Linked DNA regions of Homo sapiens. The protein of the gene in region 1 purifies or fractionates together with the protein of each later gene. This does not show direct contact. Each region holds a gene or a part of one and is shown on either strand. Other genes may lie near its edges.

Region 1 (7,107 bases):
CCACATTAAAAGGGGAAGGGGAAACAAACATTATCTAGGAGATATCATAGTGGTCTCTTACATTTAAAACGCAAACGAGTACTATTTCCAACCAGAGAGAAATAAGCCTTTGTCAGAGACAATGACATAATTGAAATTTCTGGATTTGAAAGATTAAAAATTATTAAAGCCTAAGGTTGGAAACTTGATAACAAGGAATCAGCTCTAAATTTAGAGATTTTAGATCAACATAAAAGCACAAGAAGCCTTTTAAAACTAAAGAACGCAAAAGTATGCAGCTTTTTAAATAGTATACATAAGGTGAAAGTATTTTCAAACTTTTTTTTGGAATCTCCTATAGTCTTTGAATTCGACATTTCAGGAATGCAATTTAATTTTAATTAACCCTAAATATTGCCAAGGCCTATTTTCATTTTATCGTCGATAAAGGATTCCTTCTAAACAACTGCACTCAAGAAAACAAACTTTCACCAGAAATTGTTACTAATACTACTAAAACTTTAACTTAACCAAAATATGCCAAGGAGAAGACAGTAAGAGTGTTATTTTGAAACGTCATAAAGTTGTGCCAATAATTTTAAGGAAAGTATTTTCAATGTTCGAAAACACTATATAAACACATTATGACAAATCAAATAATCTATAACTTAAGTTTCAACTAAATTTAATATAGGTCAGTCAGATTGAGTATGTTACACATTTTGTTCCAACCATTTCCATGGTTAAAAAATAACTGGCGCCCCTTAGCGCTCACATTTGGAAATACTCAATTTAAGAGTTCCAGCATTTTTTTTTTTTTTTTGACATTCCAGAAAGTTTTCTGCCTCCACAATCTTTCAAATGCCAACACAAATAGGAAAAGCAGAACCCCTTAAAGGGACAGCTCAGGTTTTCTCTGGAGCAACTTGAAATTAACAGATTTGCTGTTCCAACAGCGGAAAATGCCCATTTCAACGTTGGTGAGTGCTGTATGTTTAACATACGGAAGCAAAACGACGAGAAAGCCGTAACACCTAACCATTTTCTACTTTTAAGTTGTTTCTATGACTTTCAAGACAACAGAACTCCTGGGATTTTTCTTTAACCATTTTTTATCATGGAAACATTTCCGGCCTTTTGTTCTCTAGTGACATTCCAACTCCCCAAGCTTCAAACTCCTGTTCCCCGACTCTATTTTTAAAATCTCGAAATTCTTGCGAAAAATCTAAACTCCATTGTTCATCTCTTCAACCTGTAGTTTTCAGTTTCCTTTACACAGTCCTCCGGTGGTGCCTCTAAGCAGGAAAAAAAAACAAACAAACTCCTGGCCAGTCGATTTTCGAAACAGACTTTTTTTGTGGTCTTTTTTTTCTCTAGGCGTCCACAGAAACCCACAGCTACTAGAAATTAATACTTCAGGTACTGCTATGAGAACTTCTTAAGGAAATTCCAAAGTTGGTCAACATTAATCTTCTTGTCATTCTTCACTCCCCACAGCGCTCCATACAGCTTTTTGGAAACTTTGGCTCAATTTTATTTCGCCCTTTCCAAACGTCTCGAAACCCTGTCCTACAAACTCAGGCGGCTGCGTCCCCGGGAGCAAACCCTCCGCCCAAGTTCTTCTAACTCAGGCTGCGCTCCGATCTGTCATCGCGTTATTTCGCACTCCACCCCCCCCCCCCCCACCCCCGAAAAGTGAAGTTCAACTCCCTAACAGTTCTCGCTTCCCCAAACAAAAGGGAAAAAAGTGCTTTTCGCCGTCACTTAGTCCTCCTTGTCGGCTACGCCAGCATAATTTCGGTCTCCTACGGAATTTCTTTAAACTAACGAGCCCCACACTGACTTCCACTTAGTATTGAACAGCTGCACCAACTCCCCAACCACGAAACCCCGCTTTAGTCCTCACGGGAGGGGAGAGCTCCCGAACGCGGGGCGGTGGGGGTCCGCGCAGAGCAGGCTCGGGAGGCCGAGCGGAGGAGCGGGGCCCGCGCCGGGCACACGCGTCCTCCAGGCCGGCGGCGCGGCGTGGGCCTGCTCTCGGGAGGGCTCGGCGAGGACCACCGAGTCCGCGCAGCCCCCGCCGACCTCTCGGAAATGTGACCGCCGAAGCTAGAGGGGCCGCAGGGCTCACCCCGCAGCCCTCCGCAACGCGCCAACTTGGACGCCAGCGGCGCGGGGTCCCGGCCGGGCAGGGGGCGTCCGGCACCGGCGGGTCCACCCCGGCCCGCCCGCCCGCCGCAAGCCCGGCCCGGCACCTCCTTTGTGCGCCCTCCTGGCCTCCCAGTCCCCCCGGCGCTCGGTCCCGCCCGGCCGTGACCTTCCCGCCCTCCCCACCATCCCAAGCGGGGAAAGGGGCCGCCCCGGCGGGGGTCGGGCCGGGGCCGGGGCCCTGGAGACGCTCACCTTCGTCCAGCAGCCGCTCGAGGTGGTTGAAGATCCCGCAGAAGTTGGGCAGGCTGCTCATGAGCTTCTTGTCGTTCATCAGCTGCATCAGGTAATCTGGGGTGGGCTTCGGCTTCTCCTTCGTTTCCATTTCCCCGACCATATTCCAGGCTCCGCAGCTCACTCCGCCCGCCGCCGCCGCCGCCGCCGCCGGAGAGGAGGGAGGGGCGGGGGCGAGCCCCGGCCGCGGGCCGCTCGGGACCCGGCGTCCCGCTCCGCGCCGGCTCCCGCTCTGGCTCCCGCGCCGAGCCCCGGGGCGGCCGGCACCGCGCGCTCGCCCGCCCCCCGCAGGCACTTTCCGCCCGGGCCCGACGCGCTCCCAGCCGCCGCCGCTCTCGGCCGCCCGGCTCGGCGCGTCCCTCACGAGGCCGGCGGGCGGGCGGGAGGCGGGTCTCGGCTGGCCGAGTGCGGGCGCGGGGCGCGGGCTGCTGGCGCCGGACGAGGAGGAGCCGGGGCCGCCGCTCGCTCGGCTGGTCGAGCCCGCTCAGCGCCGCCGCCGCCTGTGCCGCGGGCTCGGGGGGTCTCTCTGGGCTGGTCCCCGCCGCGGCGCCTCTGCCGCTGCCGCCGCGCTCCGACTGCGCTCCTCCTCTTCCTCCTCCTCCTTCTCCTCCTCCTCCTCCTCACTCACTTGGCGGCGGAGTTCGCCTCAGTTCAGGCGGCGCTGCCAGCGGCGGCGGCAGCAGCGGCGGCGGCGGGGGGAGGGGCAGCGGCGCGGGGAGGGCCGGGGGCGGGCGGCGGGCGGGGCCGCGCAGGGCGGCCGTTAGCGGGTCCCGGCCGGCGCGCTCCCGCTGCCTGCTGCCCGCCGCCCCGCGACCGGGGCAGCCGCCGGCGCCGCGCCCCCTCCTCCCTGCCTCCCCGGCGGGGCGGGCGACGGGGGCAACGGGAGTGTGACGGACTGCGGCGCTCGGCGGGCCTGGGCGCAAGGACTGGGTCGCCGCCGTGCGGGGCGCCCGGGGCGGGTGGGTGTGGGCTGCGGGGCCGACGGCCGCGGGGGGGGCGCGGGGCTTTCCACGGCACGGGGCGGGTGGGGCTGCGGGCGCGGTCGGGGCTGGCGCGGCAGGCGAGAGGAATTCCAGCGGGACGCGCCAGCGCTGCCTCCGCCTCGCCTCCCGTTACTATAGTTTTTTCAGAACCTCTTATCCACCCCGCAGAAGAGAAATTTTTTTTTAACGTCCTGTTGCTTCACGGGGGACTTTCGGGGTGGGCATCACGTGGCCCGACACGTAGCCGTGGGGCTCCAGAGCGCGTGCGCGCGTCGAGCCCGGTCGCCACGCCCCTTCCGAGGGTCGCTCCGCCCCCGTCGGGCCCCGCGAGCGCGCGGTGGGGGAGGGGAGGGCCCCGGAGCGCGCCTGCGTGGGGCGGGGGCGGCAGCCGACTAGGGGCTGGGTCTGGCCGTTTAGGGCCGGGTCTTGGCCCGTCGCCCACGGTGCGGAGGGCTGGTGGGCTTTCCTTGGCCGTCGGGCCCGCCACGGCGCGGGTCTTGGCTGCGGGGCGGAGGTGGGGCGGGAGAGCCGAGGATAAGAGTTTGAGGCTTTTCGAGGCGCGTGCCGCGGCGTCCGCCTCTGCGGGACTCTGCGCCGGGCGCCCTCGGCCGGCGCGCCCGGCTCCCGCTTTGTCGCCGAGGGAAGCACGCGCGACGCCCCTCCCGTCGCCGCCGTGGCTTCTTTCGGTGTTCGTGATTTGCTGAGAGGCTGGAAAGCAGCACGGCGGAGAGGAGCCTTGCACTCGCCAGGCGGGAAGCCTGCGCGGACACGCGTGCGCACCCACGGGGCGGCGGGCGGGCGTGGGGGGTCCGGGCCACGCGGGCGACGCGCCTCTAGGGAAGCGATCTTGTTGCACCTTCCCGTTATTCTGAAAGCAAATCGTAGCCAGACCCGAGCGCAGCGGCTTAGCAAATAATAAGGGGAGCGTCAGTCGTGCTCGAAATGCTTCCTTCGCGATGGCGTCAGTGTTCCGTGAGGGAATGAAGCCGCAGTAGGAAATAAAGAGGCTGTGCGCGTAGTCTGAAAAGCAGAAGTCAACATTTTTACAGATGAAGAAAGAATACGGAGGCAAGAGGTCTTTCTCTGCAGTTTGGTGGATTTCCAACATTTAGACTTGTTTGGAAGAATTTCCTCAGCTGCACCAATGAAGTCCTTGATCTATAGAAGTCGGCAGTCCCTAAATCTACGTCTGCATTTTGTTGCAAATCCTTTATAACATTCCATTAAAATAATGCAGAGTTATTTAATATCCAGTTGGCCATCGTGAGAGTAATTCGCGGCTGAGATTTTGTTAATCATTCTGTCTTCTGACTTAACAGTGAACGTAGGTGATTTTTTTTGTAAAATGTTGCTTCACATGAATTGTGAGAATCACCTCTAAGTTTGAATTGTACTGAAGGCACTATAAGAATTTCAAATGAACGCTGAGTAGCCAGTAGCCTTCTGGCCTTTTCGTTTAACAAGCACAGAGTTCGTTTTTAAAATTAAGTTACTTTGACAGAGGAAATGTAATAGCCTTGGTAGACAACATTAAAAATGTAACTGTCAGATGTTTTAAAGTCTCCAACAGCCGTATCTGTTTTAGAGCCATAGAATATTTACTTACTGAATTGCCTGTTTAAAGATGAACTTTCTAAATGCAGGGAATAGTAACTTGCAAAAAAGCTATGGTCTCTAAGTAATGAAGGCTGTTTCAGTACCTAGAAAAATCAAAATCAAGGTTTTGATGCTGCTAGTGTAAAAGATGCAATCCCCTTCTTAATGGCCTGCTTATTTATTAAGCTCCTAGGCACTATGCTGAATGCCCTACATGCATATCTCGTTTAATCATCAGTACAACTTGGGCTTAGGTTAGACTGTTATCCCCATTTTACAAATAAGGGGAAACCCAAGAAAGATGAAGTTAAGTAACTTGCCCAAGAATATAGCTAGTGAGTCCTGTGTCTGGGATTATAATCCAATTATATTTTATTCTAAAGCTTTTTTTTTTTTTTTTGCTTTTTTTCCTTGCCCTATCCTTTAAATCAGGTTGAATTTTATGACAATATTCCACCATTTTTGACCCATAGAAATGGCAGTGTCATAAGGCTCAACCACTTAAACCAGATTAAAGAACAATGATAGGCAATTTTCATTTCCTATGTATTAAATCACTTACGGTTACAGCATTTGATAATAGCTACTGTGTGTTAATTTTCTTTTTTTTGAAACAGAATTTCGCTCTTGTCACCCAGGCTGGAGTGCAATGGCGCGATCTCGGCTCACTGCAACCTCTGCCTCCCCGGTTCAAGTGATTCTCCTGCCCCAGCCTCCCGAGCAGCTGGGATTACAGGCATGCGCCACCACGCCTAGCTAATTTTGTATTTTTAGTAGAGACGGGGGTTTCTCCATGTTGGTCAGGCTGGTCTCGAACTCCCGACCTCAGGTGATCCGCCCCCCTCAACCTCCCAAAGTGCTGGGATTACAGGCGTGAGCCACGTGCCTGGCAGGTTACCTTTTCAAATCTATGTAGATCACCTCATTTCCTGACAGTCCCTCAATGGTTTCTTATCTCAAAAAAAAAAAAAAAAAAAAGGAAAGAAAGAAAAAATCCGAAGAGCTTACCAAGTCCTGCAAGACGACAGGTGTGCCCCTGGTGCATCACTGACCTTATGTCCTTCTCCTCCCACAGCCCACTTGGCTGCACCCCCGTGGAATCCGTCTGGATCCTTAAATATTCCAAGCATGCTTACCCTCCCCAGGACTCTGCCCTTGGTGTTTGCTCTCCTCGGAAAGCTTTTCCCCATACATCGGCGACCCCTGCCCCTATTTATCTTTAGAAGGTGTCCCTTAACACCCTATGTAAAATGGCGCCTTTGTGCACGCAAACACTTCCTCCCTTCTTCCATCTGCTTACCCCAGGTTCTTTTCATACCATTTGTTTCCACGTAACAATGGGTCAACTCGTTTGCCACTGGCATCAACATTGTAAGCTCCATGAGAAAAAGGAGTTTCTTCTATTAGGAATTTCCAACACCTAGATCAGCATATGGTACACGTAGGCACTTATTAAATATATGTCCAAAAGAAGTATTAAGTACTTGTTATGGACCAGAAGCTCTGCAAAACCCTTATCTTCATTGTTTATTTTCATCCTTACAGCCAATATTTGAGGTAGGCAGGAAGAGCCATATTTCAGAGATGAGAGGGCTGATGCTTAGGAGGAGTAAGTAGCTGCAGAGGGTCGGGTGCGGTGTTTGTGCCAGTAATCCCAGCATTTTGGGAGGCCAAGACAGGTGGATCACTTGAGCCCGGGATTTTGAAACCAGTCTAGGCAACATAGTGAGACCCTATCTCTCTAGAAAATACAAAAATTAACAGAGTCTGGTGTCACATACCTGTAGACCCAGCTACTTGGGAGATTGAGGTGGGAGGATCAGGGAGGCAGAGGTTGCAGTGAGCTGTGATCACACCATTGCACTCCAGCCTGGGCAACAGAGCAAGATCCCGTCTCAAAAAAAAAAATGTAGAAAGACTAACTTTGTAATAATTACATTATTACAAAAATGTTATCTTAATACAGTATTGAAAATAAATTACAACATGTAGTGAGTATATATACAGAATGAGCCTCCAGTTGAAGATCCCTATAATAGGTTTTTTCACTGTGAAAAATTGTCATCTAATATGTTGACACTAAAAATGGTTCCACATTCTAACATCA
Region 2 (3,144 bases), on another chromosome or scaffold:
GGAGGAAAAAAATGACAGTGGGAATTGTAACTAATATTTAAATCACTTGGAAATAGGATTCATTTTATCACCAACCTACCAGGACCCTCTTTACTGTAAAGAGATAAAACACTAGTAAATGTATTGCATAAATATACCACAGACTATTATGAACAATTAAAGCACACTTTATATTTTTTAAAATTTCTCTGTAAACGTTCTAAGATAAATTATATTTGAATTTGATAAAGTCCTATTTTGAATCCCTTTGGGTTATAAAAGTCTATTCCCTAATTTATCTTGTGAAAATCCAGACTTCTGGCTTAAAATGGGATTTACTTTACTCTCTGAGAAAGGAATCCACCGTACTTTGATTTAGATAACCACATGGTCTGGAACTCCATTTAGTGAAAATTAAATTTTATGACTCATATAGCCAATGTTTTACCTCTGTTTTCTACATATTCACAGCAGGTGAAATGTGTTCAGGAATTTAAAGATGAAAACATATGTCTTTTAAGTAATGACCACCAAGAGCCACTGCAGATAGAAACAGCTTTATTTTTTCCATTCAGGCTTTATCAAATAGCTTGTTCAAAAAGCATATACAAGAGCAAAAAATACCACATGCAGTCAAACTTCTTTTGCCTTATAGTCATTGGCTTTCTTTTAGAAAAGAGTGTGCACTTGAATAACTTCTAATTCAAACATTTTCCAACTGTTTCTACTTCATTTTTCAAGTTAGCAACGACAGATACATTTTAGTTAACTGTTTCATATTCCTTATCTTTATTCATACTGAAATAATATAAAGCCTATAAAATCAAAGCATATACTGTTCAGAAATCTGGAAAGGTTCTTTTACATAATAGATTCTGACACGTTAAGAAACTACACACAACAAATATTTGCAAAATGAATGAAAAATAGGATAAAGCTATTTAAAAGTCAACATAGTAATATTTATCTAAATAATTTTAATCAAATGTACAACATATTTATCTGATATCATCTATCTTTTAGAATACAAAAAAGTGCTCAGATTACATTTAAAAAAATAACAAAAATCTCTTAGAATGGAAATAATTTAAATAAGGACGGTAGCAAGGGGAATTGAAATTACATCTTTGCTCCCAAAACAGGAAGGCAGGTGTGATGTATTTGAAAATCAGAAAGGGACACAACACTAAGATTGCAAATGCAAAGCTTCCTGCCTTGGAAAGATATAAACTGTCTTTGAAAAGTCCTTGTGTCTTTCTTTACAGAAAGTTACGAACATAAAATCAGATCTCTCAGCTAGACTGCTGGTCAAGTAACAAGGTGGGTCACTTTTCTTGACTATGCTTTTCTAGTCCACTATCAGTATTCACTCAGCTGGGGCTCAAAAGGACAAATAGGTGTCCTTTTAAGACACTTTGACTACTTGGATCAATACACTAGCTATTCTCAAACCAACATAATGCATGAATACAGCAGCCAAGTAGAAGGATCTCCAATGCTCAAGTCACTCTGAGTCTTTGCTGGTGTCAACCTACAATGCCACCCTCAAGGAAAGCACAGTGGTTCACAGACAGGGATGATTCATCATTTTCCTCTGAAAATGAATTCTGCAGGAAGAAACCAGAGTTGTGGTAAGATGTTGGAGTCAAGTTTTCTCTTCATCTGATATTCAAGGGTTGTGATCTTTATGAATACCATTTTACATGCTAATCACAAAGACAAATGGAGGGAAGATACAGTGATAACACCAAGTTGGACATTCAAATGCTAAGCGAGCCAAGTACCAGCCCTACCCTGCTTATTTTTAATAATGCAGAGATTACTTACTACACTTTCTGAAGCCTTATTTTGAAATTTATTTCACATTTCAGACATGTCCATAATTTACTGTTGAGGAAATAAAACAGCATGTAGAACATAATTCTATTTATATTAAAATTACATAGGTATGTGTGTATACATACATGACAGTTCTTTTCTCCTTCTGAGTATGGTAGGGTTGTAGATGATTTTTACTTTTTATTTATACTTCTTAATGTTCTAACTGCTTACAGTGTCACTTTTGTTATAATCATAAAATGAAGCTCTTTTCATTTTAGAGGAAAAAGAGAAAAAAGGCTCTATAGATTCTGAAGGCAGTTCCAAGTAAGTCTCTCAAATGCTCTTACGAGACTACTTTGCAGGTCAAAATCCCAGAAAAATGTAAAATCTTGTGATCAGAGAAAATGGCTTTGCTCACTACTCTAGCTCGGTTAGCAGAGTACGCAGCACCTTGGCAGGTGTGACACACACACTCTGAATGAAGAAATGCGGCTGACTTGGATGTTGAGTTTCTAGAGATTTCAGTTTTAAAATCATTGTTTTATGATCCTTTTTATTCTAGTTAGCTGAGGATATTTTCAAATTTTTGTCAAAATTCAGTACATTTTAGAGGAAAGTTTAAAATTAGCAACAGGATTCAAACTACCATGTTTTATAACATGGCTTTTAAGAAACGATGAACCAAAACAGAAAAATGGGCAAAGTGGGGACTAAAAACGGCTTGCTGGCCAAATAGCTGGTAGCAGAAGAGGGGATCAGCTGACAAAGAGGGCACAAGAAAATAACCCTCCTGTTTTTCATCCTGTTTCCCAGACAGCTCGACTATAGCTAAGAAGGGACATGTCTGACTGTCCTCCTGTACCCAGCACAGTGCCTGCCACCTTGACAGGTGGGCAAAGGACTCAGCAAAAGAAAGTGAGGGAAGGAGGGGGCTGGCCTCTGCTCTGAGTTACTAAGGGTGGCAGAAGCCACCCTGACTGTGACTCTCAAATCAAAGGACAAGAAATGGATTGTTCTAGCTCTTGTCCTGGAACAGAGGTCGGAATGATTCCTTCTTCAATGTGATTTGTGGCATAACTATGAAAGTAATCACATACTAATTTCCATTAATAACCAAAGACAAATGTCCTGAGTTGTAAGATAAAAAACTAGTGACTATTTATTTCCTTTGGATGAGACTTAGATCAAGGCAGGAACCAACATTTTTCTTTAAAAAAATTCAATTTCTTACATTTTTAGAAGTAAAGCAAATAATATAACTAGAGTAATTATGTATTTTATTGTCCAAACTGGGATATTTTTTAGAGTAAAAGGGAGTACTATATTCTAGGGGAAAAAACTATG

Evidence for each region. Proteins that work in one complex are often made in the same cells at the same time.
Region 2: the proteins of QKI (region 1) and ATE1 purify together in Homo sapiens (affinity purification with mass spectrometry; 2 studies listed by BioGRID and IntAct, with this or other methods). This does not show direct contact.

The regions. Positions count from the first base shown.
Region 1 is NC_000006.12:163,410,611-163,417,717, reverse strand, and holds the start of QKI (KH domain-containing RNA-binding protein QKI), read right to left. Parts: upstream 3,001-7,107; 5' UTR 2,754-3,000; coding exon of another isoform or gene 2,542-2,753; 5' UTR 2,525-2,541; coding exon 2,383-2,524; intron 1-2,382. Other genes in the region: basic proline-rich protein-like, read right to left, coding at 2,542-2,753, 3,050-3,469, 3,633-4,512. UniProt on the Homo sapiens protein: RNA reader protein, which recognizes and binds specific RNAs, thereby regulating RNA metabolic processes, such as pre-mRNA splicing, circular RNA (circRNA) formation, mRNA export, mRNA stability and/or translation.
Region 2 is NC_000010.11:121,739,904-121,743,047, forward strand, and holds the end of ATE1 (arginyl-tRNA--protein transferase 1), read right to left. Parts: 3' UTR 521-3,144; downstream 1-520. UniProt on the Homo sapiens protein: Involved in the post-translational conjugation of arginine to the N-terminal aspartate or glutamate of a protein. This arginylation is required for degradation of the protein via the ubiquitin pathway. Does not arginylate cysteine residues.